Linked DNA regions of Homo sapiens. The protein of the gene in region 1 purifies or fractionates together with the protein of each later gene. This does not show direct contact. Each region holds a gene or a part of one and is shown in the gene's direction. Other genes may lie near its edges. The genes, in order: NXPH1, CNTNAP3, RNASEL, SUCLA2, UBE3D, YTHDC2 and CTHRC1.

Region 1 (4,273 bases):
AGTTCAGCTCTGACAGCATTGTAGCTGGGAATCCAGATAGAGGCAGGCAACATTTGCTCCAGCTCTACACTCCAGTCTGGGAGGCCTGGGAGCTCCTGTACAAATAGGAATCAATTTTAGGATAGCCTTATGAATCCTAGAGGATGGAATTAGACAAAGCTTTTTTTGCCCCTGCTTTGACCATTTGGCCTCAGATACGGGTGCCCCAATACTTTAATTTTTCTTCTTTAAAGTTTAAAGTTTTTAAGAAAATGAAATAGCTGGTAAGTGAAAATAGTCAAGAAAACATTGTAATTATGCTATATGTACATGTGCGTTTTTTCTGAAGTGGATTTTCAGAGACACAGTTAGAAGGTGTGCTTCACTGCTTTATTCTGCATATGCCCCAATGAATTCCAGGAGGTCACAGCAGCAGAGTACAACTTTTAAGATTAGAAGAGCTTGCTCTTTAAAGAGTTATTTTTAGCTGGAAGGGAGAGTGTAGACCTCAAAGTGCTGGTAGGTATGTTCTACAGTGGGGATCTAATTTGGAGGTCTTTGGAGATCTGATTCCAGGGGAAGGTCTCAGTGGGGCTCCTCTTGCCTCTGCTGCAGGACTGGGTGGCTCTGCTGATTGTCACTGCCTTGTTTGAGGGGTGGTCTCCATCATCCAGGGGAATTCAGCCTGGGACCTATTGTCTAGAGTGTACATTGTATCTAGGCCCAGACCTGCCAGAGTGTCCACAGCCACACTTGAGGAAAGGACATTCCAGACTCATTAAATATCACAATTCGATTTTGATGTCACTAACTCAGGTTCCTGAGATAAATTTCCATACAATTCCTACAGATTGATATGGATATGTGCATCACCCCAGGAGAGGCTCTGGTGAAGGGCAGGCTTGGAGATGCAATGGGCAAGGTTGGGGAAGAGATACCCTCTTCCGGGTTCCGATTTGTGCCCTGAATTTGGGCAAGCTCAAGGAGCACTGGCAACCCCACCAGCACCAGAAGAAGCTGGTCCTGGCTGTCTCCCGAGACTGGTGAAACTGCTCTGGTGGTGGTGCACTGGAAGGGTGGAGGAAAAAAAACAAAAAACAAAACAGGGTTTGAGGGGGAATGGCAGGGACACGGTAGAGGCACAGAGATACAGAGACCTAGAGTCAGAAATCCTGAGTGAGACACACAGAAAGGCAGAAAAAGGCAGAAAGATGCTGAGGGACAGAGACGCAGACCACAAGAATGACAGAAGAAGGAGACAGAGAGAGAGAGGGAGTGAGAAAGATACTGAGAAATAGGGACAGTAAGGGAGAGACTGAGAAAGACAGAGACAGCCAGAGTCGGAGCACAGAGGCCGAGTCTGGGAGACGCTGGTTGAGTGGGAGGTGTCAGTAGCGAGGGAGGTGGTGACGGCTCGAAGCATCCCCCGTCCTCCTCCTCCCCCTTCACGCTCAGCCCAGCCGGCGGCGAGGAGTCCAGAGGCCAAGGTCGCCCAGTCCTCTCGGCTGTCTCGAGCTGAATGGCTGGCAGTCTGCGGCTCCCCCGCCTCCGGCCCGGCAGCCACAGGTCGGAGGCGCCCGGCGTCGGCGCTCGAGGCCGGCAGGGGCGCCCTGCACCCTCCCGCGCCCTTCCCCGCCCTACGCGACTCCCGGCTGCTCTTCCCGCCACTCCCCTGGGCTTTGCGATCTTCCCTACGCCCCCCGGGAAGGGGGCGCTGCGGCCACCGAAGACACCGCGGGAGCCACTTGTCCCTGTGGGCCCAGCCCGCGAGAGCCTGAGAGCCGGATCTGTTTACACAGGGTACTAATTAGTCTTTGAGGAATCATTCACCCACGTGCCAAAGTAATTGTCCGTGTCAGGAAGGTAGGCGTGCCAAGCCGCGGCTCTGCGGAGAAACCACGACCACCGCGGCCGCCGGAAACCCAAAGCGCTCCAGAGCGTCCCCGGGTGGCCGGGCAGCACCAGGGACAGCGCCCGGGACTCCACTGGGGACCGGCTCCTGGGCTTCCCAGCGTCGCGGGTAGAGGTACAGCTGCTCCGTGTGCCGCAGGCTCCAGATTCTCGCCACCCCACCCCTCCCTCAGAAACTCGGACTGCTCTCGTCTGCCGTGTGGTTCTCTTTTCTTCCGAAAGGCCAGTGTCTTATCTCTCCACTTCAAGTCCAGAGGACTTGCTCAGTCTCCTCCCCTTAAGTCATTTCCACCATCCTCAGGCAGCTGTGGGAAGCCGAGAGTCCTGGACTGTTCGTCCGGGTGCCAGCGCTGGCAGTCCCAGTCCGTCCGGTGCAGCAGCCCGGCGCATTCCCCTCTCTCCCTCCCTCTTGCTCTCCCTCCCTTTCTGTCTTCCTCTCTTTCCTCCTCTACTGCTCCCTCCCTCTCTTGCCTCTTAAGTTTCCTGCACCGTGAATCCAACTGTGCCAAGCCTTGGCTCCCGCGAACCAATCCTGAGCGCGACCCGGGCACTGGGACGGCGACTCCGCCAAAGCTGGACGAGGCAGCCGGACCCGTCTGCGCTCGAGCATGGAGACGGAGCGCCTGGGAGGGCACGTCCGGGGCGCTGGAGACGCCAGGCCCGAGTAGCTTCTCCATGGAGCCTGCCCAGAGCGGTCCCTTCTCGCAGGATTCGCCCCAAGTCCTGTGCGGTACGTACCCTTTGCCTCCGCTGTTCCCGGAGGGTACACCTGGGAGCGGGGTGGTGGGCACGAGGAAGGGACGGCAGGGAGGGGCGCTGGTTAGGAAAGAGAACAAGCCTGGCAGGTGACCCTCACAGCTCGGAGGAGGCTTCTTCTCTAGAAGTTAGCGACCGGCTGTACCCTTTGGCTCGAAAAAAGTAGTGCTAGAGATGTGACTGTGAGCATTCGTGGGTATCTCTGTGTGCGCCAGGGGTTCGAATGGGTAAACTGATCCCTGCTTTCCTGTATGCAAATTGCATTCTCTTTCCCCACCCCCACTTCACCGAACGTGTTGAGGTACCTAGCACCTAATCGCGGTCAGTTCTACCTACCTCTTCCTCTCACCGCGCCCCCCTCGCTCAATCTCTCTCTCTCCCTTTATCTTTCCCCTCTATCTCTCTCTGCTGGTGTGTACGTGTGTGAGCACTGCCAGGGCTGGCGAAGAACCAGCCGCCGCCTTTAGTCCGAGCCGCCGGGCCACCCAACACAAGGGCAGGTCTCGCTGCCGGAGAAGCCTGGGCTCCGAACCAGCCTGCACGCGGCTCAGTGTGCTCCGCCGCCTGGGAACTCGCACCCGAGGAGCGCAGGGGGCAAGGAGCCCCTCACCCTCCCTCTCGTCCGCCCGCCCGCCTCCCCAGCTGCGGACCGCGCGCTTGCTGGTCTCAGGCGCTGGATTTACTCGCTTTTCAATTTTTCGTACCCTCCCTCCCTTTTTTTTTTGGTCCCCCACTCCCCGCTACGACCCCCTTTCCCCGCTTGATTGTCAAGCCTAACCTTGCCCGCGTAGTCATGGGATGTCTAATTTTATTTGCATCTAGGCTGCTGAGAGCGCTCCTTGCTCTGTAAAGTGGATGTCAGGTGGATCTATGTTTCTGAAGGAACAAAGACTCAAAGAAGGCACCGCCAAGGAAGTTTGAGACGCGGGAGAATGCAGGCTGCGTGCTGGTACGTGCTTTTCCTCCTGCAGCCCACCGTCTACTTGGTAAGTCTTGGAAGGTTCGGGGCTTTCGCATTTTTACCCCGGCCGGGAGGCAAGGAAACTGGGGACACGCGGGAGAAGGGTTACGCCGCCAGTTCAGTGAGAGCAGCTTCCTAGCAGCTGTGTTGGAGCAACTTTGGCAAGCTGGTCTCTGGATTCCTGCGGATTTTCCGGGGTTCCCACCCCATTTTCTGCTCCAATCCCCCAGTCTCCTGCGCGTGATTCTTGAAAGGGGCTAGGGCGCCCCAGACACCCTAAACCCAAGGAGGTAGTGAGATGGGGTGCTTTATGTGATAGAGGGCCAACGAGAAGAAGTGGAAGGCAGGAACTCTCAGTAGCTCATGCACAGAGTTTAAACGAAGGGAAGTGGGGGTGTAGTTGGGTGGTGGAAAGAACAAATCTGCCCAGGTCTGTGAGTTTAAAAGTGAATCTACCCACCCACTTCCCCGATTTGGAGATGAGACACATAAAGAAGCGCAGTTAACTTTCTTTGACTTGTAAGGGTTCCGACAGGATAAGTTTAACTATCAGGGGTACTGCAAGCAATCGGAGTTAGGACAGAGATACTCCAGCAAACATGTCCACCTTCCTCTCGTCTCGACCTCCCCTTTTCATCAAATAACTAAATCCCATCTCCAGTGACT
Region 2 (4,164 bases), on another chromosome or scaffold:
CCATTTTCTCTCTTTCTGTCTCACTGAAGGCAACTGATCTGTCAATCAAAACTTTAGATTTATAATTTTTTCTGTAATAAAAGACGTGCTATTTACAGAGTTCTTGTGCAAAAGTAGTTTAAGTGAACCCAATTAATAATTCAAGAATGACTTTGTAAGATTCTTCATCTATTACATTTGAATTCATTTTACATTTTACATCTATTACATTTGAATTCATTTTAATGAAAAAGCCTTTCAAAGTTGTCTTTCTAAAGGGAAGATTAATACACTATTTCTTAGAGATACCATCTAAAAAAGTATCTTTCTTTCTTTTTTCTTTTTTGGAAACTCGCGGTGGTGGTAATGTGAGTGAGTTTGTCAATCTTTGCCCCTACTGTGAATTTGAGAAGCAGAGGAAGAGAAAAAGAGAAAGACCCCCCCCCCCGCCCCCTGCCTCCGCCCCTCCCTCTAGCACACAGTAGGCGCGCAAGGAGTGCAGTGTTAGCTGCTGCTGGACTGAGCTCCTCATCCTACACTTGCAGGGGTTGCTCTTTTGGACAGAAAGCTGGAATAAAACGTAAATTTTAGACTTCCACCAAGGCCAGGACTAGGGTGAAGGGACTAACGCACTAGTCTCAGGAGCAACTGTTAAGTAACGCTAATCCTGAATGAATGAAATAGTTTTAAAATTGAATGTAATCGCAAAGAAAAAAAAACCCATGATAGACAAAATATTAAAACTTTAAATAAAGGCTTGCACTCGCACAACCCAGGCTCACCGGCCTCTCCCTGCTCCTGGCCCGGTTTCCCAGCTTGGTTCTCTACAAGTCAGAATTCCTAGCAAAATCAAAGTGTGCGCGCGTCTGCCCAAGTACACGCCGCAGAGTTATTTCTGCCCCATCTTCCCTATTTGAACTCAAACAGGACAGCATTTTCCTGGGTGCAGCCCCTGCGTTGGGTGAACAGCGCAGTGATAAAGCCTGGCGTTCTCCACCTGCAGGCGGAGGCTGACGGCGCGGTCTTTGGCGCGAGTCCGTGCACCGCGGCCGCCCCGCCCCGGTGGGAGAGAGGGACGGAGGAAGCTGCCGGTATAACGGGAGGAGAGCGCCAGGCGGAGCTGGGGCGTCCCTCCCGCTCGCTTCTTGACTCGCGTTGCTGCCGGCCGCCTCCCGCGCCTAGTGTCCGGGACGCGCCTGAACCTGCCGCCTCCGTGCCTGGGGTGGCGCCGCGCGGCCCCGAGCGCTCCAGAAAGCTGCGGCGCGAGTCCGCGGGGCCGACCTCGGAGACGCAGCTGGGGCCGGGCGCGGCTTGGCGGGAGGGTCTGCAGCGCCGAGGGAGGCTGCTGGTGCGTGAGGAAGAGAGCTAGAGACTGGACAGGGGAGGCAGAGCAGCGTCAGAGCCGCGCAGGGGACGGGAGTGAGAGCAGGAGCGACGCAGAGCGGCCGTCGCCGTGCCCGGGTCTCAGGGCGCCTGGCTGAAGTGAGCATGGCTTCAGTGGCCTGGGCCGTCCTCAAGGTGCTGCTGCTTCTCCCCACTCAGACTTGGAGCCCCGTGGGAGCAGGAAATCCACGTAAGTACAGCAAATGGTTTAAAACTTGCGCTAGGCTGTCTGGAAAACTTTGTTTTTTTTTTTTTATTATCGGTAATATTTGGAAGTGGAATTGCAGAACATGCTCCTGAACATGAAGAACCTTAAAAAAAATTTGGAATTGCAACCCGAAAAAGACGATTTTGTTTACAATAGACTTTCCTCTTGTGGGGGAGTCTAAGATATACCATGCATGTTTTGACTTTTTAATCGATGTACTTGAATATTCATTGAGAAAGTGGACGTTTCTGTAAAACCTGAAAAGCATCTTAATAAGAGATTAGCGTGCAAATGCTGTCATTTATTCCTTTTTAGGATTGTAATATTTTGTAGGAATTAAGTCTAACAGGGAAAAAACTGGCAGACATTACATCATACTGCATCAACTTAGATGTTAGCAGCTTACAGTTTTGCCGACCTTGGCAGCTTCAGAGTTAAAATGCTAATTAACTTCCATGCAGTATAGGGACAGAGCGCCTGTAGGTGAAACTAAATTAATAACCTGTCCTAACTACTAAGGGAATAACACTTGAACACCCCTGTCAGGGGCTTCGTTTCTCATAGTAGAAAGTTCTTGCTTAAAGACAAAACTCAGCCAGTCATTTAGGTGATCTTGAAAATGATTCCTCTCTGGATGCTAATATTTTACATTATTTAATTTGCCATCAGGTTCCCTGTTTTTTATTTTCCTTAATTTGGTAAACACCTAGGAAGCCTTTATTTCTAGAATGGGCTATGATTCTAATGTAATGATGATATTCCAGACAGATGAGCAAAACATAATGTACCCATATTTTATCACACATAAAAATGTTTACACAACATTGCACATTTTTTTTTTGGCTTGGAGTAAATCTCTAGCAGAGAGTTGTCTTTCTTTCTTGATTAATCAAACCATGAGATTAGAATTTTTAAAATGTCTTCCTCTTCCTTCTCAAATCACTTTTATTTTTCTTTCAGTGGCATCTCCCCGCTGTCAGCCTCAGCCCTCTCCTACCAAAATCTCTTTCGAAATAAGTTCCAATAAACGCCAGTGGCCATGTTTGGAAATTTAGATTATTGCAGGATAACCAAGGGTAGCTTTCAGCAGTTCTCCTAAGCTGTCATGAAAAGTTTGCCGTAGCTCAGTGCTGTTCTGCCCGCGGGCTCAAGGGTGGGTTGGTTCTTCACACACAGGGCACGCACATGGGTTCATGAACTCACTGTGCATCATGATTCAGTTGCGCCTCAGTTAATCCTACACTTGGTGTGCCCTTCCAAAAAACAAGCTCCGGATTCCTTTGGTCAGATGCTGTACCGTGTTTCAGATTCAACTTTAATCTGCTTTTGTGAGAAGGCTTTGTGAATAAAACGTTGTTACTTAAATCAAAATCCTTGGGTCTTGTAATGGAAACTGCCGTTTGGCTTAAACAAACATATAAATGAGCTACTTATAGAAAGGCATGCTAGAGTAATTGACCAATCAACTGGCAAAATACAACAACAAAAAAAGTCACTAGAGGTCACTCTTACTATTGAATAAACAGGGCTTCAAAAAGACCTTCCTGGAGAAAAGCAAAGCAATGAAATCTGAGTGAGACCCTGCCACCACCTTTCCTGTTTTTGTTGCATAGTTGTGATTACTTTTTATTCTCAGGATTAGTTGTATTGGTAGTTATTTTGCTTGGAATCCAGTGGAAGGATTACAAAGCCCATAGAAATTAAGCTCTTCTCGTTTATAGTGAACATTCTTTTTGGAGGAGGGGAGGGCAGGGACAGATATTCCAAATGGACTCAGCACCAGACGGGACTCTCGCGAGTTGCTGAGTGACACGTGAAATTTCAATACTACTACTGTGGGTGTTTTCAGTCTTCTTTCGTTGATGAAACTTAGTATCCTCATATCTAATAAATTTTACTAATTTTAAATTACCTTTTAGATCAAGTAATTCTTCCAGATAAAACTATGTAACTGTAATAATTATACCACCTTCAATACCAAGAAGAAAGTCAATAAGGACATCTAAAAGTTTCCTTCTCATGTAGACACCATGAGTTGCTCACGTTATTCACAGCTGGTTTTCGAGAAGCACATTGGCCACCCACGAAGGCAACCTGTTGATGATGGCATGAAATGGCTCTTCATGGGAAGAGCTCTATAGGCCGGGCACAGTGGCTCGCGTCTGTAATCCCAGCACTTTGGGAGGCCGAGGTGGGTGGATCACCTGAGGTCAGGAGTTGGAGACCAGCTTGGCCACCATGGTGAAACCCTGTCTCTACTAAAAATACAAAAATTAGCCGGGCGTGGTGGCAGGCATCTGTAATCCCAGCTTCTCGGGAGGCTGAGGCAGGAGAATCGCTTGAACCTGGGAGATGGAGGTTGCAGTGAGCCGAGATCCCACCATAGCACTCCAGCCTGGGCAACAAGAGGAAAACACAAAACTCTGTCTCAAAAAAAAAAAGCTTTCTAAACATTTGGCATTTTGGGGATTATGTGCAGTTTATCTGAATGTTATTTGACCCGACAAATACATGGGAAAGCTTTGTTAGGAAGATTCTGCATGAAGGGAAATATTTTCCTAACTTCAGTGCCCATAGACTTGCAGTGAGTGAAA
Region 3 (3,500 bases), on another chromosome or scaffold:
GTGCAAAGAGTTCCTTAGGCGACCTTCTTCTTGGCCTTTCCTCCTGGCCACGGCCTAATCCCTGGGGTCATCACTTTGCCTCTCCTGGCCTGGACTGACTTTTTTATTTGCTGCGTGACATAGCCTCAGACCCAAAGTCCCAGTTTCCAGCCAGGCTGTCAGTTCTCCCTGTGTTTAAAGCATTCTCCCTTTCCTCAATTTATCTATATTCTGTCCATACATTTGAGGCCCAGCTCAAATCTCTCTTCCTCCAAGCAGTCTGCCCTAACAACTGTGACTTATATGTATCTTTTACTCTTCATAAAACTAAGTGGTATGGGCGATATACTGCCTTGAAGAGGTCTGTATGCACACATCTGTGCCTTCCCTCCCTAACAAGCCTACAAATTCCTTGAGATTCCTCCCATCATCTTGTTTGCTAATAGCGTGCACCACTCCTTCCAGGGTTACCCAAATAATTAGTAAGCATCTTTGGCTTGATTTATGGCTTTTGTGCAGGACCTTGGACGGCTGGTCCTCTATGTGGTAAAGAAGGGAAGCATCTCATTTGAGGATCTGAAAGCTCAAAGTAATGAAGAGGTGGTTCAACTTTCTCCAGATGAGGAAACTAAGGACCTCATTCATCGTCTCTTCCATCCTGGGGAACATGTGAGGGACTGTCTGAGTGACCTGCTGGGTCATCCCTTCTTTTGGACTTGGGAGAGGTAAGTAAAACTTTGTGCAGATGCCACAGGCCTCCAGGATGGAAAGGGTAAGGTGGTGCAGACAGAAGTCTGGGCTGCAAATCAGGAGACCCAGGCTTTTTTCTTAGCTTGGGATTTACTGGCTGTGTGTCCTTGGAGAGATGACTTAACCTCTCTGGAGTCTGCTTTTCATTTCTGAAGAATAAGGAGGGGAAAAAAAGAGATGCTTGCCTCTCCTATCATGCAGAATTTTTGAAGACATGGTTGTATTACTTTTATTAAAAACCAAAATCTAGCCAGGCGCGGTGGCTCACGCCTGTAATCCCAGCACTTTGGGAGGCCGAGGCGGGTGGATCATGAGGTCAGGAGTTCCAGACCAGCCTGGTCAGCATGGTGAAACCCCGTCTCTACTAAAAATACAAAAGTTAGCCGAGTGTGGTGGCAGGTGCCTGTAATGTCACCTACTTGGGAAGCTGAGGCAGGAGAATTGCTTGAACCCGGGAGGTGGAGGTTGCAGTGAGCCAAGATTGCGCTACTGCACTCCAGCTTGGGGGACAGAGCGAGACTCCATCTCAAAAAAAAAAAAAAAAAAAAAAAAAAGAAAGAAAAACCAAGAAAGCACAAAAAACACCAAAATCTAACGGTTTTCTTTTTCTGGAAAAGGAAAGGGAGGGATGGGATGATCATGATCATTTAGATCATTTAGTCATCTTCAGCCGCTATAGGACGCTTCGGAATGTGGGAAATGAATCCGACATCAAAACACGAAAATCTGAAAGTGAGATCCTCAGACTACTGCAACCTGGGCCTTCTGAACATTCCAAAAGTTTTGACAAGTGGACGACTAAGGTATGAACAATTCCTATAGTGCAGGGGTTAGTCCAGGAATAAGAATTTGTGTAATGTTTTATGTTAGTTTTTCTATCTTATTTTACACCAGTGGCAAACCAGAGGCTCAAAGAGGTGATTTTGCCTCCTGCCCTCCCATCCCTATCCCCCTAGGCTCCCTGCCGGGGTGTCTACTTCTACTTTCAGAAGCTGGCCCTCCCTCTCTCCCATTCAGACCCATGCCCCTCTGATAGACTGTTATTCAGGCTCCCCCTGGATGGCCTTATCCCAGCCCATGAGCCTTTCCCTCACTTAGCTGATAATCCTATTGCCATTATGGCACGAGCAGCTGACTAAATAGAGCTTAATCCAAGGGAAGTGCTTCACCATGAGGTGTTTCAGTCCAGGTACAGCCTGGCTGCCTCCACTGCCTGTAAACAGCCCAGCTCTCAGGATCCACACACAGACCTACATTCTGCCTGAGGAAATAGACTATGAAGGAAAGATGATCTTTCAAATTGCTCTCTTTAAGAAAAGTTCCACCTAACTTGCATTAATTATAGTGGAACTCTACAAAATTAGTCATCATCTCAATCTAGTCAGTACTGTCAGAACTTTCATTATTAATTAACAAACATCTATACAATACCAATTATGTGCTAGGCCCATGCAAGGCCTTGAGCATACAAAGCAGAATACAATGTGTCCCTGTGGGGCTGAGAAGCCCATGGAAATGATGCTGTGGGATGTGTGCTGGGCATCCCAGGGACATGTGCAAAGCACTATGGGAGAACCCATAATCTTCAGGTCTTGGAAACCAACAGCTTCCTATCCTAGACCTGACCTGGGACTCTGCTTCTCCTAATTCTTGTTTTGCTTTCCTTCCCTCACTGGTCTCTAGACTGCACATCACACTCATAATTACTGGCTTACGGTCCATTTTCCTTGCTAGACTGTAAGTTCCATGAAGGCAGAGACTACCCATTGTCTTGTCAGTTATTGTATCCCTGGCATGGAGTAGATGTGCCATGACTCTTTACTAAATGAATGTCTATCAAACTTTGGCTAAAATTTTAACTTGTAGAAACAAAGAAATTTGAAAGCAGCTATGATAGTGATAGCTAATGATTACGTAGTATCATTATGATTATGTGGCAGCCATAGTTCTTGAGACTTTACATGAGTTACCACATTTAATCTTTAGCACAACTTCTGAGACAATCATCTATATTTTGCAGATGAGCAAGCTGAGGCACAGACAAATAATTTTTCCAACTACACAGAACCAGTAAGGGGTGCACCAGGATTTGAAGCTGGGAAGGATGGCTGCAGAGGCCATGTGCTTAAGCCACACCACTACATGAAGCTGTGATGGCATCAAGTCTACCAACTCATTTACTCACTGAGGAAATTGAGGCTCAGAGACCACACTCAAATTACTCATGCTGGACAGTCAGAGATTGGCAGACCTGGAAAGAGGAACTTGTTCTTTTATTTCCCAATTTATTGGTTCTTTTCCCTAAATTCCATGGGCTTATATTGAATTTTGATAGTCTTCAGGTTTTAACTTCAAGTTTTACCTTTTAATTCCCATTTTACACTTTGTTTTTCTGTTGACTTGCCCATTTTCATGGTCACACAATTAATTTTGTCAGCATAGGTCTGGAGCCCAAGTTTTCCAGCTTGTATGACTGTATTGGTTCTTGACTTGCCCCATCCTGCCACACATACGTGCTTGGCGTTTCTCACGGGTGTTCTGCACAGAGTGCACCTGGCCAGTCTCAGCAGCATCCTCACTAGCATTGCTCTTTCATCAGTTACTCTTCCTAAGTGACCCACTGGATTCTTGACTGTTGCATCTTGATCTCGTAGCCCAAACTCTTTCTAAATATGAGAGCCATCTATGGCTCTGTATCTATGAGGGTGACAAGCACAGACAAAGAGGATGACATTACTGTGATATGAAAGGAGTTGCCCTGGGACACCTGC
Region 4 (3,500 bases), on another chromosome or scaffold:
TTGTGTAGAATTTAGAGTAACAAAAATTTTAAGAGTCATGAAAATAATTTTCTTATGTAGAACAACTTTTTTAAAAATAACAACTTTCTGTATTGTGATTTTTCTTATTTACAATTAAATCTATTAATGTTTGAATGATATGTCTTTTGCAACTTTTAATTTTTATAAGGAAGTATTTCTAAAGATATAACACTAGATGGTAGTAAAAATCCACTCAGAATATAAAATTAAGAAGCATTGTTTTATTCTTAAGTGATATTCTATGTGATAGAATTTAGTTTGTAAGTTATTTTAAAAATCCCATGACAGTAACCTCATATATTACCCAAAATTTACATAAATTATATTTTTACACATTCACTTATTTTCACTACATTTTATTTTTCTTTTCATTGACATTATATATCGGCATCTGTCATTTTGTTAGTTATGTTTTTACTTTTTGTTACAGTAGCCAGAAACAAGGTATAAATACCTGGATGAATTGAGATAGGAGTTCTATCCATAGTAATTCATCTTTATTGTAGTAAAGGTAGGATACTGAATATGTATTATTAAAGATATGTTTAAGGCATTTGGGAAAAGGATCAAATTTGAGTTCATCTTATGAACTTGAATTTCCTGACAACTATTTAGGTCTTGTTGAGGATAAAATGTTTTTATTTTAATACTTGCTTACTAATAATACGTGGTTATAATTCAGGTTAAAAATACTGTAGTACCAGTAAAACTGTTTGACCGAAGACATTATAAATTCTTTGATATTATCACATTAGACCAATGTAGAGTTGGTTGGTGTTACTTTTTGGGGTATAGCCATGTTTTTGGGAATCCCTGTGGACAGATCTCTGTTGAACAACAAAAATTAGTCACCTATTTAAACTACAAAGAGCACTTGTGATTGAGTTAATGTCCCATGCATGGGAATTAACTAATCATTAGAAATTGCTTTTGTTAAAATGGGGAAAGGATTTCCTATTTAATAAATGGTGCTGGGAGAACAGGCTAGCCATGCAGAAAATTGAAACTGAACCCCTTCCCTACACCATATACAAAAGTTAACTCAAGATGGATTAAAGACTTAAATGTAAAACTCAAAACTATAAAAACTCTAGAAGGAAATCTAGGTAATACCATTCATTCAGGACATAGGCGCGGGCAAAGATTCATGATGAAAACGCCAAAAGCAATTGCAACAAAAGCAAAAATTGACAAATGGGATCTAATTAAGCTAAAGAGCTTCTGCACAGCAAAGGAAACTATCATCATAGTGAACACACAACCTGCAGAATGGGAGTAGATTTTTGCAATCTATCCTTCCGACAAAGGTCTAATATCCAAAGTTTATGAGAAACTTAAAACAAATTTTCAAGAAAAAAAGCAAACAACCCCATTAAAAAGGGGGCAAAGTACATGAACAGACACTTCTCAAAAGAAGACACAGGCTGGGTGTGGTGGCTCACGCCTGTAATCCCAGCACTTTGGGAGGCCGAGGTGGACGAATTACCTGAGGTGAGGAGTTTGAGACCAGCATGGCCAACAAGGTGAAACCCTGTCTCTACTAAAAATAAAAAAATTAGTTGGGCATGGTGGTGAGTTCCTGTAATCCCAGCTACTTGGGAGGCTGAGGCAGGAGAATGGCTTGAATCTGGGAGGTGGAGGTTGCAGTGAGCCGAGGTTGTGCTACTGCACTCCCGTCTGGGCGACAGAGTAAGAATCCGTTTCAAAAAAAAAAAAAAAAAAACTATACATATGGCCAACACACATGTGATTAAAAAGCTCATCACTGATCTTTAGAGAAAAGCAAATCAAAACCACAATGAGATACCATCTCATGCCACTCAGGTGGCTATCATTAAAAAGTCAAAAAACAACAGATGCTGGTGAGGTTTTGCAGAAAAAGGAATGCCTTTACAGTGTTGACGGGAGTGTAAATTAGTTCAACCATTGTGGAAGACAGTGTGGCAATTCCTCAAAGACCTAGAGGCAGAAATACTATTTGACCCAGCAATCCCACTACTGGGTATATACCCAAAAGAATATAAATCATTCTGTTATAAAGATACATGCATCGGTATGTTCACTGCAGCACTGTTCACAATAGCAAAGACATGGAATCAACCTAAACATCCACCGATGATAGACTGGATAAGAAAATGTGGTACATATACACCATGGAATACTCTGCAGCCATAAAAAAGGAATGAGATTATGTCCTTTGCAGGGATATGGATGGAGTTGGAAGCCATTATCCTCAGCAAACTAATGCAGGAGCAGAAAACCAAACACCGTGTGTTTTCACTTAAAAGTGGGAACTGAATGATGAGAACACATGGACACAAGGTGGGGATCAACACACACTGGGGCCTGTCGGGGTGGGGGTGGAGGGAGGGAGAGCATCAGAAAGAATAGCTAGTGAATGTTGGGCTTAATACCTGGGTGATGGGATGATCTGTACAGCACACCACCATGGCACATGTTTACCTATGTAACAAACCTACACATCCTGGACATGTACACCTCAACTTAAAAGTTGAAGAGAAAAAAAAAGAATAAGCAAAGCAAAACTAAAACAAAACAGAAAACAATTACTTCTATTACTGACTTGTTTTTAGGAGATGTATCATAGGTTCTACTGGTCTTTAGTACCTTTCACATCCTGATTCCGGGAGGTAACTTCTATGGGGTTGGCTTGCCAGAAAGTGAATTCAAGTACCTACTCTCTGTGTGATACCTTTGTTAAATTAGATTTCTTAACATTTGCCTAGTGCCTGTTGGGTACTTTTGGTCTGAGTCAAGTCTATTTAATAAATCACATTTACTACTTTTATTTTTCTGGTAAAACAACTGCAGTCTTCTGCAAATGAGTGGGACATTTTCCTGTGTCAATTTTTGACTTTACCTGAAATAGTTATAAAATGTGCTTAAGAATTCTAATTTTACTTCGTGTGATTTTTTTTAAATACACATCTTTATTTTTTATTTTTATTTTTAATTTTTTTGAGAGTCTTGCTCTGTCGCCCAGGCTGGAGTGCAGTGGTGCCATCTCTGCTCACTGCAACCTCCGCCTCCCAAGTTCAAGTGATTCCCCTGCCTCAGCCTTCCAAGTAGCTGGGATTACAGGTGCATTCCACGATGCCCTGCTACAGATCTTTATTATATCATGTGGCTGCTTTCTCATTTAAGCCTTTTACATTTAAGCCTATTTTAAGGCAAATTTAAAAAAATACCAACAAGAGAAGAAGAACTTAGGTTAAGAAAGTGAAAAGTAGGGCTGGGCGTGGTGGCTGACACCTGTAATCCCGACACTTTGGGAGGCTGAGGCGGGCGGATCATGAGGTCAGGAGATCGAGACCATCCTGGCTAACACAGTGAAACACTGTCTCTACTAAAAATACAAAAAAAACAAAAAATTAGCTGGGCGTGGTGGGGGGTGCCTGTAGTCCCAGCTACTCGGGAGGCTGAGGCAGGAGAATGGCATGAACTCAGGAGACGGAGCT
Region 5 (3,500 bases), on another chromosome or scaffold:
AAAGTATATTTTTCAGGGTTTTAGATAAATATGCTTTCAGTAAAGCAATGATTAAAATCTTTTGTTCTTAAATGTTTTATGTTTTCTTCAAAACATCAAAAAAATTTTTTCTGCTTTAAAAACTCTTTTATCTTTGCAATGACTTGCAGATTAGGCACTTTCTTGCTCCTGCTGTCTTATGTAGATGGTTCTAGGACATATTATAGCTTTTATTCACATGATATATGGTCACATTAAGTTTAAAATATCATATTTTGTGTTAATGTGAGTTGTCTCCCAGATCTCTGTAAATCTTGGTGCAATTTTATTTCCCTGATCATGTAGGGGGTTTTGACATTGTTGTCTTTTGCACTGTATTGAGGGTTTGTTTATTGGCACTACATGCAGTATGTCAGGAGACAAAAGATCTTAATGATGGAGAAAGTCCAGGAACCTATTTAGGCCTAACTCCCTCCCACTCTAAACAGGCAATTTATTTGCCCTCTTCTTCTGCTGGTTCTTCTTGGTAAAATTCAAATCTGACCTGTTATTCTGTTTAAAATTCTGTAATGCTTCCTACCCACCTGAGGTACCAAGTCCCTACCCCTTAGCGTGGCCTGGAACACCCCACACAGTTTGCCACCATCCTACCTGCCCAAGTCTCCTCCTCTATGGCTGTTCTGCATTGCCAGGGAAGGAATATATTCTAAGGACCTGCCGTTACTGATCACTTCTGATTCTGTGAACTTAATGCAGATTTTTTTTTTTTTTTTTTTTTTTTTTGAGCTGGAGTCTCCCTGTTGCCCAGGCTGGAGTGCAGTGGCGCGATCTCGGCTCACTGCAAGCTCCGCCTCCCGGGTTCAGGCCATTCTCCTGCCTCAGCCTCCGGAGTAGCTGGGACTACAGGTGCCCGCCAGCACTCCCGGCTAATTTTTTGTATTTTTAGTAGAGACGGGGTTTCACCGTGTTAGCCAGGATGGTCTTGATCTCCTGACCTCGTAATCCGCCCGCCTGGGCCTCCCAAAGTGCTGGGATTACAGGCATGAGCCACCGAGCCCGGCTTAATGCAGATTATTGAACATTTCTGAGCCTCACTTTCCTCCTCTGTACAGGAAAATGGTATTTCCTGTCTCTCAAAGTTGTTGCGAGCATTAAATGAAATAAGGTGTGTTTAGTGGCCACCAAGGGTCTTTTTAAGTTAACTAAACATGTGGACTCACAAGGCTACCACAGGCCACATTCCTTGCCAGCTTGCCAGCAGGGCAGCATCAAGAATTCCTCTCAGCAGGGGCTCTGCATGTTTGCACAAATGACAGCTCACATACCTTTCTGGGGACTGTTGTCTCCCCACACGACGTAGTTCCAGGTACAAAGCCTAAGCTCCACATCAGGGAGGTACGGGAGCTGCCCTGGCTCAGAAGAAGCCTCCTGCCTTAAGCAGCCAGTATCTCTTGTAACAATTCTTGATATAGTTTGTAGGGTTCCCAAGAAGAAACTGCATTCAGGGAAGGCCAAAGTGTCCTATCAGACATTTACAGCTCATTCATATTTCTTCCTGGTTCAGATGCAGTTTACCAACCAAGGATCATTTTTACCGTAAGCAGTGTTGCCTAGCAATATTGTGGATGCCTAAGCTCTTACCTGGTTTCCAGGGTAACAGAGCTAGGTGGCTAAACCAAAGATCAGATTCTCAAGCAGCAAGGGAAAAGGTTTTTAACCCCTTAATTCCAGTGTGCAACAGACGCAACCAGGGGCTTCACACATTATAGTTATCAAAATACGCTAGTTCATTTCTTCAACAAATATTTAAGAGCTCATGATATACGTTAGGAGCAATGTAAGACAGTAGAAATACAGTGGCAAGGTAAACATATATGGCATCTACCTTCATATTGTCTCTTCCATGATGCCCTTAATTCCTTTCACTGCCTGGAGAACTACTATTTATCTTTCAAAGGCCAGCTCAGATGTTACCTCTTCTCTGAAGTCTGTGTACAATCTATTCTTGTAGCAGTTTGTGTTTATTGCCTTGAATTCATGGATTGGTCTTGGGGATCCATGAATCCCCTAAAGTAATATGCAGATTTTGTGTGCTTGTAGAAATGTACATTTGAGGAAAGAGGCTAACACTTTTCTTAAATATTCAAAGGGATCTGTACTGCTCCCCCGGTGCCACCGCCCACCCCCCCCGCCAACTGCAAGAATTTAGAACCGTTACTCTGTTACCAGCATTTATAACATGTGCTTTTGTTATTTGTTTGTAGGTCTATATTTCTTACTAGAACATGAGTACCTTAAGAGAGACGGACTGTATGTGTTCATATTTTGTGCCAGTAGAATGCCTTATTCATAGTAGACTTATAGGAAATGTACGTTGAAAGAATCACTTCTCAGTATGCTTAACAGGCTCAGCACTTTGATGATACCAATGGTGCAGCATATACTAATTTCAAAGGAAAAGTTCTTCCTTATGTTAAACTAAAATCAGCCTTTCTTGTTTCTAGCTTTGTCCTCTGCAGTTATAAATTGTGTACCCTCTTCTGAACTGTAATTGCCCTTTTATGCAACTCAGTTGATTGGGGAAATCAAAGGAAAATGGTTAACATGGGGGAATTGTTAAAAAAAAAAAGTAGCATTCACATTTTAAATGTTTTAACTTATAACATCTGAATGTACATTAATTTACTAGTATTTGTGTTTTGTTAGAAGGAGGAACTTAGCATATATCACCTTAACGAAGTTATCAAGATTAGCATCACTAAGTTGTGTTGATATGATATATTCTCTGATTTGATGTGATGAGAAAGGTACATTTCACTTCTGTGAGATTCTTTCCCCAAATCCATACCACCAGCCTAATCTTGAGACAATATTAGACTAACTCAGATTGAAGAATATTCTGTAAAATACCTGATCTTTGCAAAAATCTCAAGTGTCTGAAAAATAAGGAAATATTGAGAAACTGTTATAGACCAGACGAGACTAGGGAGACATGATGACTAAATGCAAAGTATTATCATAAATTAGATCTTGGAACAGAAAAAAAGGATATTAGTGGAAAAACAGGTGGAATTCAAAGTGTGTAGTTTTGACAAATCTACCATGGTACCATAAAATAGTAAGTTTAGGTCCATCTGGGTGAAGTGTATATGGGAACTAATACACTACCTTTGTAAGTTTTCTGTAAATCTAAAGTTATTCCAAAATGAAAAGTTTACTAAAATATAGTAATAGAAGAAATTATAGAAGAAAGTTGTTAGGTGATCTGACCATTAAGACACGTAAACCAAAATAAAAGGCAGTAACACCAAAAAAATTTGTAACAGATTAATAAGCATGAGGCTAATACTCTTAATATAGAACACATTTTTACAAATTAATAAGAACATAATAATACCACCCTGGAAAATAGTCACTAATCACAATTCACAGAAGAAACACAGTAGACTATAAGTAGCAAAACTAGATGAATCTCACCAGTAATTTAAGAGTTGCCAGTTAAAGCAGCATTGAAAATACTT
Region 6 (3,500 bases), on another chromosome or scaffold:
TAAACTCAATGGCTTTTTTAGCATTTGAGTATAAATTAATGATAAATATTATTTGATCATAAAGTCTTAGATTTTATAGAAAATTAGAATAAGGCAAATTCACGTCGAGGAATTCGTGTAGTGATTTGTAGTTACTTGTTGCCTCACTAAGAAGCGATTAGTAAATGTGTCTTGTTATGCAATTATTCTCTTTTTATAGGCCTGGCAAAAAGCACGAAGTGATGGGTGGGAGCGAGCCTTTTGTGAAAAGAATTTTCTTTCACAGGCTACTATGGAAATAATCATAGGCATGAGAACACAGTTGCTTGGTCAACTTAGAGCATCAGGTAAAGTTTTTCCCTCAAAGAGCCTATTTAAGTTACTGAGAGTACCCTGCCCATATTTCATAGTATTTCTTATGTTAACTGATGCCATCTATTATTTTTATGACATTATCATGTTGTGTATCTTATATTCATGCATGATTTGTAGACTTCGATATGTCTTCAACTTTTGCTTGTTGATGAAAAAATGCTATTGCAGGAGGTGTATTTGAGAAATCTAGGGACAGAATCTATATGCTTGTGATACTGTTGGCAATGAACAATTTGTATTGGTTGGCAGAGATCAATTTAGATCTTATAGTTATTTTCTTTTATCACCATTAATGAATACTTATTTAGTTCTGTGAAATAGAAATTTTAAAAAATTGATATGAATGCTGCTCTTCATATTTTTGGAACACAAAAACAGCTAGTAATACTTGAAGTCACCTTTTTTTTTTTTTTTTTTTGAAGAGGATGCTAGTATTGCTATTACCTTTTAGAATTGCCTTTTTGAGTAGCAAAAAAAAATTGATGTGGTAGTCAGAAGAATAGTACCAGAGCCTGGATTCATGGGTTAGCTGAAGTGCCAGAGTAATATAAGGAATGAACCAGAGGACTTAAGAGTTGACTTGAACATAAGGAAATATGAAGGACTTTTGAAACTCAAGCAAAAATTACCATATATTTACTTGACTTCATCTACAGAATTAGTATCTATCATAACCAAAATGTTGTTAATAACAGTCAGAAGAATGGTTTGGGTTTCCAGCTATGAATTTAGTTTGTTTCTGGCAGCAGATTATGAAGAACTTTATTGCAAGAATGTGGATCTAAAAAAATTTAAGCCCCAAGTGATTCTTATACTTAATCTAACCTGAGCAGATCTACACTTCCCTAGAATGTTGGTTCTGTATCTGTTTTAGGGTGGGGAGGGGTGGTTCATATTTTAAACAACTTTCCAGAGGAGATTCTATTAATTATCGTGAAATTTGAATATCACAAAATTTACATGAGTTGTACAAGTTTTTGGAAAAAATACACAAAAGTATCTTTTGCACAATAGAAAAATTGGTGTGGTTTTTTTCCCCTCTAGGTTTTGTTAGAGCACGAGGTGGTGGTGACATTCGGGACGTTAACACAAACTCTGAGAATTGGGCTGTCGTTAAAGCTGCATTGGTGGCAGGCATGTATCCTAATTTAGTCCACGTGGACAGAGAGAATCTAGTGTTGACAGGGCCAAAGGAGAAAAAAGTACGATTTCATCCTGCTTCAGTTCTCAGTCAGCCTCAATATAAAAAGGTAAAAGATTTTGAATGCTGTTGGGTTTTGAGGTGAAACTAATTTAGGTAGTTCACTATCAATGAAAAATGCTCCAAATACCTGCCTGCTTTAAGAAATTAATTAGTTATATATATATATATATATATATCATTAAATATTGGAACAAAACTTATAAATTTTAGAGTTGGAAAAGGTAACATGTTAAGTAATGAGTACTTTTGTACGAACTACATGAGCGATGACTTGTTTTAATTTTTGCTTACGTACTAATATACATCATCTATTTCATTGAGAGACTTTACATTTTAAAAGTATTTCCAATAAACTAGGTGATAAACACAATTAACAATTTTTAAAATTTATTTTCTTAATAGATTCCTCCAGCCAATGGTCAAGCTGCAGCAATTAAGGCACTGCCCACAGATTGGCTTATTTATGATGAAATGACCAGAGCCCATAGAATAGCTAATATTAGATGTTGTTCAGCAGTGACGCCTGTCACTATATTGGTATTCTGTGGACCAGCTAGATTGGCAAGTAATGCTCTTCAGGAACCTTCATCCTTTAGAGGTAAATGTATTAAGGAAATAAAAATCTATTTGAAATGAATTTTTTTTTTTTACCAAATAATGAAATTATTTTACTAAACCAAATAATGAAATTATAAAGATTTATATAGTAGCAGCTCTATTTTGATGTACTAAGACTAATTAGGAAATACTAAGGTATACTACTGTTTTTGAAATTTATTTATAAGGTAACTTGATGTTTATTTGTGCATTTTTTATTAATCTTGCTGTTGGGAAGAAATTTTTCTTTTCCACTTGAATTTAAATGATAGTTTAACGTAAATAAAGTTAATTGTAAAAGAAATAATAGCCACCCATAATCTCATTTTTCTCATGCTAACACTTTTTAATGTTATATTTTTTCTACATGTTTACATATTTTAAATTATTTCACCCAAACTGTTATTTTATATTTTGTTATTTTCATTACAGAGATATCAAAAATATTTTTAGTATTTTATATTAATGACTGCAAAATAGTATATCACATTGAAGTGGCATAATGCATTTTTTTCCTTCAACTTTTATTTTAAGTTCAGGGGTACATGTGCAAGATGTGCAGTTTTGTTGCATAGGTAAAGGTGTGCCATGGTGGTTTGCTGCACAGATCATGACATCATGTATCTATCAAGCCCAGTGTCCATTAGCTATTCTTCCTGATGTTCTCCCTACCCTCTACCACACACCCCCAGTAGGCCCCAGTGTGTGTTGTTCCCCTGTCTGTGTCCATGTGTTCTCATCATTCAGCTCCCACTTATAAGTGAGAACATGCGGTGTTTGGTTTTCCATTCCTGCATTAGTTTGCTGAGGATAATGGCTTCCAACTTCAGCCATGTCCCTGCAAAGGACATGATCTAATTCCTTTTTATGGCTGCATAGTATCCCATGGTGTATATGTACCATATTTTCTTTATCTAGCCTACCATTGATGGGCATTTGGGTTGATTCCATGTCTTTACTATTGTGAATAATGCTGCACTGAACATACAAATGTACTTATCTTTATAATAGAATGATTTATATTCCTTTGGGTATTTACCCAGAAATGGTATTTCTGCCTCCAGGTCTTTGAAGAATCACCATGCTGTCTCCCATGGTGGTTGAATTAATTTACACTAGTGTAATTTAATTACACAGTAGTGTAAAAGTGTTCCTTTTTCTCTACAACCTCACCAGCATGTTGTTTTTTGACTTTTTAATAATAGCAATTCTGATCTCATTGTGGTTTTGAATTGCATTCCAGTAATGATCAGTGACGTTGAGCTTTTTTTCATATGTTTGTTGGCCACATGTACATCTTTTGAAAAGTGTCTGTTCGTGTCCTTTGCCCACTTTTTAATGGGTT
Region 7 (3,500 bases), on another chromosome or scaffold:
TACAAAGATGCGTTCAAATAGTGCTCTAAGAGTTTTGTTCAGTGGCTCACTTCGGCTAAAATGCAGAAATGCATGCTGTCAGCGTTGGTATTTCACATTCAATGGAGCTGAATGTTCAGGACCTCTTCCCATTGAAGCTATAATTTATTTGGACCAAGGAAGCCCTGAAATGAATTCAACAATTAATATTCATCGCACTTCTTCTGGTATGTAAAATTGTGACATTGCAAGATGTGCCTCAGATCTAAGTAAGATTAGTTTTGAGTCCCACTATCATGTTGGTTCACTAGCCTACTGTAAAGGGACCTCTAGCAAGTTTTCAATGCATGATTCTCCACCCTGGGTTGTACTTCTGCATTACCTCTCGATCTTTTAAAAATACATAGATGCCTGGGCCCTATCTCTGATGAACTAACGCAGAATCTCTAGCAGTAAGACCACAGCTTCTGTGTTTTTTAAAAGATCCCCTGGTGATTCAGATGTGCCCCAGGCTTGAAAATCAGTGAGTTAAATGACATGGCAAAATAGCCAATAATGCCATAGAGCAGTGGTCTTTCAACCTTGGCTACATATTGGGCTCACTGTAGGAACTCTGGGAACTTTAAAAAGAAATGCCTATCCCACCCTTCCAGGGAGTCAGATTTAACAGGTCTGGGTGCAGACTTGGCAATGGGACTTTCGAAGTATCTCTTGGTAGGCTGGGCGTGGTAGCTCACACCTGTAATCCCAGCACTTTGGGAGGCTGAGACGGGCAATCACTTGAGCCTAGCAGTTTGAGACAAACCTGGGCAAGAGGGCGAAACCCCATCTCTACAAAAAAAATACCAAAAAATTAGTCCCAACTACTATGGAGGCTGAGGTGGGAGGATGGCTTCAGCCCAGGAGGCAGAGGTTGCAGTGAGCTGAGGCTGCCCCACTGCACTCCATCCTGAGTGATGACAGAGTGAGATGCAGTCTCAAAAAAAAAAAATCTCCTGGTCATTCTAATGTTCAGCCAAAATTTAGAACCACTGGCTCAGACTAATAAGGAGACTGATTTTTCTGCCTTATCCTTTAAAAGGGTGGATACTGTCTGCTGAATTTGTAAAAGACAAAATTTTTATACTGTTTCTGTATTCTGTTTCCACCTAGTATGAGGAAAAGACATTCAGTGGTCACTTAAACTGTCAGAAAAATATCATTGGGTTGTTTTATGTACTTATGTATTTGTTTATTTATTTATTTATTTTAGAGACAGGGTCTTGCTCTGTTGCTCAGCCTGGAGTACACTGGCAGGATCACAGCTCACTGCAACTTTGAACACTTGGCCTCAAGTGATCCTCCTGCTCAGCTTCCCAAAGTGCCATGATTACAGGCATGAGCCACCATGCCTGGCCTGTTTGTTCTATTTTAAGATTCATTAAAGAAAGTTTAGAAAATACCAGAAAATAGAAGAGTTAAAAAAAAAAAAAACTATTAATCTCATCCTCCAGAGACACCACTATCAATATTTTGTTGTCAGCCATTTTGGTTTCTTGAGTTGCAGTGGATGGCACACCATGGTAGCATCAGAAAGTGTACATACTGTTATATTCATATGCCTTTTCATAGAAGAAAAATAAGAAACTATACATATGGTTAGCATCATTTCCTTGATTTCCTGAAGAGATTTTTCACTAATCTTATAATTAAAAATGGTTGAGGGGAGGGAGGAGATAATCTCACTCTTCCCTTCCCTCAAAATAACATTTCAGCATTCTTTAGGGCTCCAAGTCAGGTACTGAACCCCAAAACCAATTTATTCCTAAGCAATCAAGGGCATCCCCTCCACATTTTCCCTCAGATCCCCACAATATCCTTGAAACATAAAGAAGAGATTTTAACCCCCTCTCTTTGCATATTGAGAAACCCAGGGAAATACAGCGTCTTACACGGGACAGTAGAATCAGCGTTCAGGAGAGCAGAAACCAACGCCCTGTTCTCTTGGCTCCCAGTTCTCTTTGTAATCAGATTAAAAACCCTCTTCACTAAGTACTTAGATACATGTGCTGGAAAGGAAGAAGTGCTTCCCATCTAAGAAATAGTCTTTAAAATAAGAAGAATCTAGATATTAAAAATAAAATTTGATTAGGAAGTGATATGTTCAGACAGTCGTTGATATAAGCAACTTACATTCTATTCTGTTATCTTTAAGGTGTGTGTTAATATTTTGCTAATGTAAGCCCTTAGGCCCAGGAACTGTGTCATATACACGCATATACTTTATAAATAATTTAACACAGCATTTCCCAACCATTGTGTGCAAACTCATTTGGTGTGATCAGTTGGGTGGAGTGTCACAAGTAATTTGTTATTAATAACAGTTTTTGTATTATTGTGGATTAAAAGTTACCTCTGTAACAGAATCACTTTTTCTGACATACTGATAGTCTCTCTTAAGGGAAAGGAAAGGGGTGCACTTATAGTTAGCATATCAGAGGATGGCTTAAAGCCTTGATATGCCCATGGGAGTTTGACAAATGGTTGTCATCTGTTACATGGTCTAGGAGGAAAACAGGTTGAGAACTCCCAATCCAACATATCGTTTTTACTTAACAAGCTATCATACTACATTATCACAGCAAAAATGTTCATTCAACATTATTTCATCTGCTAAAGACCATGAAGTGACCATTTGACTGTCCTCAGATGAGGCTGATGCAAGACCCAAGCTTGTCTGACGTCCTTAGGCCGTAGGGGGAAGTGAACAAGTTTCTAGGCCATGGCTGTCAAGACCCTGGGAAAACATGAGCATTTGTAGGCATTTTCACTTGGCATGGTACTAAGAATACCAGATTAAATGGGATTGTGGGCCTACTATTTAGTTCCCCCAACTTGGGAAGGGGACTGAACCAGAGACAGGTCCCTGGATTCTGAGAGACTTGCTCTGGATTTACTCCTGTGATAGTTTATGTAAGCAGATTGCTTCAGACCTACATCTCTGGGTCTCAGCAGGAATGCACTAACCTCAATCAAATAGGAAGCCTAACCAGTCACATAAAGTCATCCACTATATCAGGATTCATTTTCTTTTTTTTCTTTAGTATTATTATTATTATACTTTAAGTTCTAGGGTACATGTGCATAACGTGCAGGTTTGTTACTTATGTATACATGTGCCATGTTTGTTTGCTGCACCCATTAACTCGCCATTTACATTAGGTATTTCTCCTAATGCTATCCCTCCCCCAGCCCCCCACCCCACAACAGGCCCGGGGTGTGATGTTCCCCGCCCTGTGTCCAAGTGTTCTCATTGTTCAATTCCCACTTATGAGTGAGCAAACTATCACAAGGACAGAAAACCAGGATTCATTTTCTTGAATCTGCCAACCTACAGTTTCTTCTCCAGCTTTACACATACATCAAAGGTACCATGTCTTTTTGCCTGCTAAAATGACTGAGGGATTTTTTTTTTTTAATTTAAGAGAAGACTTTGGTAAGATGGAATGCAACTTGTATTGTTAGTAGGTGAAAGTCCAGAG

What was found.
Region 2: the proteins of NXPH1 (region 1) and CNTNAP3 purify together in Homo sapiens (affinity purification with mass spectrometry; one large-scale study listed by BioGRID and IntAct). This does not show direct contact.
Region 3: the proteins of NXPH1 (region 1) and RNASEL purify together in Homo sapiens (affinity purification with mass spectrometry; one large-scale study listed by BioGRID and IntAct). This does not show direct contact.
Region 4: the proteins of NXPH1 (region 1) and SUCLA2 purify together in Homo sapiens (affinity purification with mass spectrometry; one large-scale study listed by BioGRID and IntAct). This does not show direct contact.
Region 5: the proteins of NXPH1 (region 1) and UBE3D purify together in Homo sapiens (affinity purification with mass spectrometry; one large-scale study listed by BioGRID and IntAct). This does not show direct contact.
Region 6: the proteins of NXPH1 (region 1) and YTHDC2 purify together in Homo sapiens (affinity purification with mass spectrometry; one large-scale study listed by BioGRID and IntAct). This does not show direct contact.
Region 7: the proteins of NXPH1 (region 1) and CTHRC1 purify together in Homo sapiens (affinity purification with mass spectrometry; one large-scale study listed by BioGRID and IntAct). This does not show direct contact.

What each region holds. Positions count from the first base shown.
Region 1 is NC_000007.14:8,432,136-8,436,408, forward strand, and holds the start of NXPH1 (neurexophilin-1 precursor), read left to right. Parts: upstream 1-1,473; 5' UTR 1,474-2,620; intron 2,621-3,468; 5' UTR 3,469-3,578; coding exon 3,579-3,632; intron 3,633-4,273. UniProt on the Homo sapiens protein: May be signaling molecules that resemble neuropeptides and that act by binding to alpha-neurexins and possibly other receptors.
Region 2 is NC_000009.12:39,285,368-39,289,531, reverse strand, and holds the start of CNTNAP3 (contactin-associated protein-like 3 isoform 1 precursor), read left to right. Parts: upstream 1-1,364; 5' UTR 1,365-1,467; coding exon 1,468-1,552; intron 1,553-4,164.
Region 3 is NC_000001.11:182,579,257-182,582,756, reverse strand, and holds part of RNASEL (2-5A-dependent ribonuclease), read left to right. Parts: intron 1-498; coding exon 499-704; intron 705-1,399; coding exon 1,400-1,532; intron 1,533-2,749; coding exon of another isoform or gene 2,750-2,803; intron 2,804-3,500.
Region 4 is NC_000013.11:47,984,274-47,987,773, reverse strand, and holds part of SUCLA2 (succinate--CoA ligase [ADP-forming] subunit beta, mitochondrial precursor), read left to right. Parts: intron 1-3,500. UniProt on the Homo sapiens protein: ATP-specific succinyl-CoA synthetase functions in the citric acid cycle (TCA), coupling the hydrolysis of succinyl-CoA to the synthesis of ATP and thus represents the only step of substrate-level phosphorylation in the TCA.
Region 5 is NC_000006.12:83,045,342-83,048,841, reverse strand, and holds part of UBE3D (E3 ubiquitin-protein ligase E3D), read left to right. Parts: intron 1-3,500. UniProt on the Homo sapiens protein: E3 ubiquitin-protein ligase which accepts ubiquitin from specific E2 ubiquitin-conjugating enzymes, and transfers it to substrates, generally promoting their degradation by the proteasome.
Region 6 is NC_000005.10:113,565,694-113,569,193, forward strand, and holds part of YTHDC2 (3'-5' RNA helicase YTHDC2), read left to right. Parts: intron 1-199; coding exon 200-326; intron 327-1,398; coding exon 1,399-1,604; intron 1,605-1,960; coding exon 1,961-2,156; intron 2,157-3,500. UniProt on the Homo sapiens protein: 3'-5' RNA helicase that plays a key role in the male and female germline by promoting transition from mitotic to meiotic divisions in stem cells.
Region 7 is NC_000008.11:103,378,038-103,381,537, forward strand, and holds part of CTHRC1 (collagen triple helix repeat-containing protein 1 isoform 1 precursor), read left to right. Parts: coding exon 1-206; intron 207-3,500. UniProt on the Homo sapiens protein: May act as a negative regulator of collagen matrix deposition.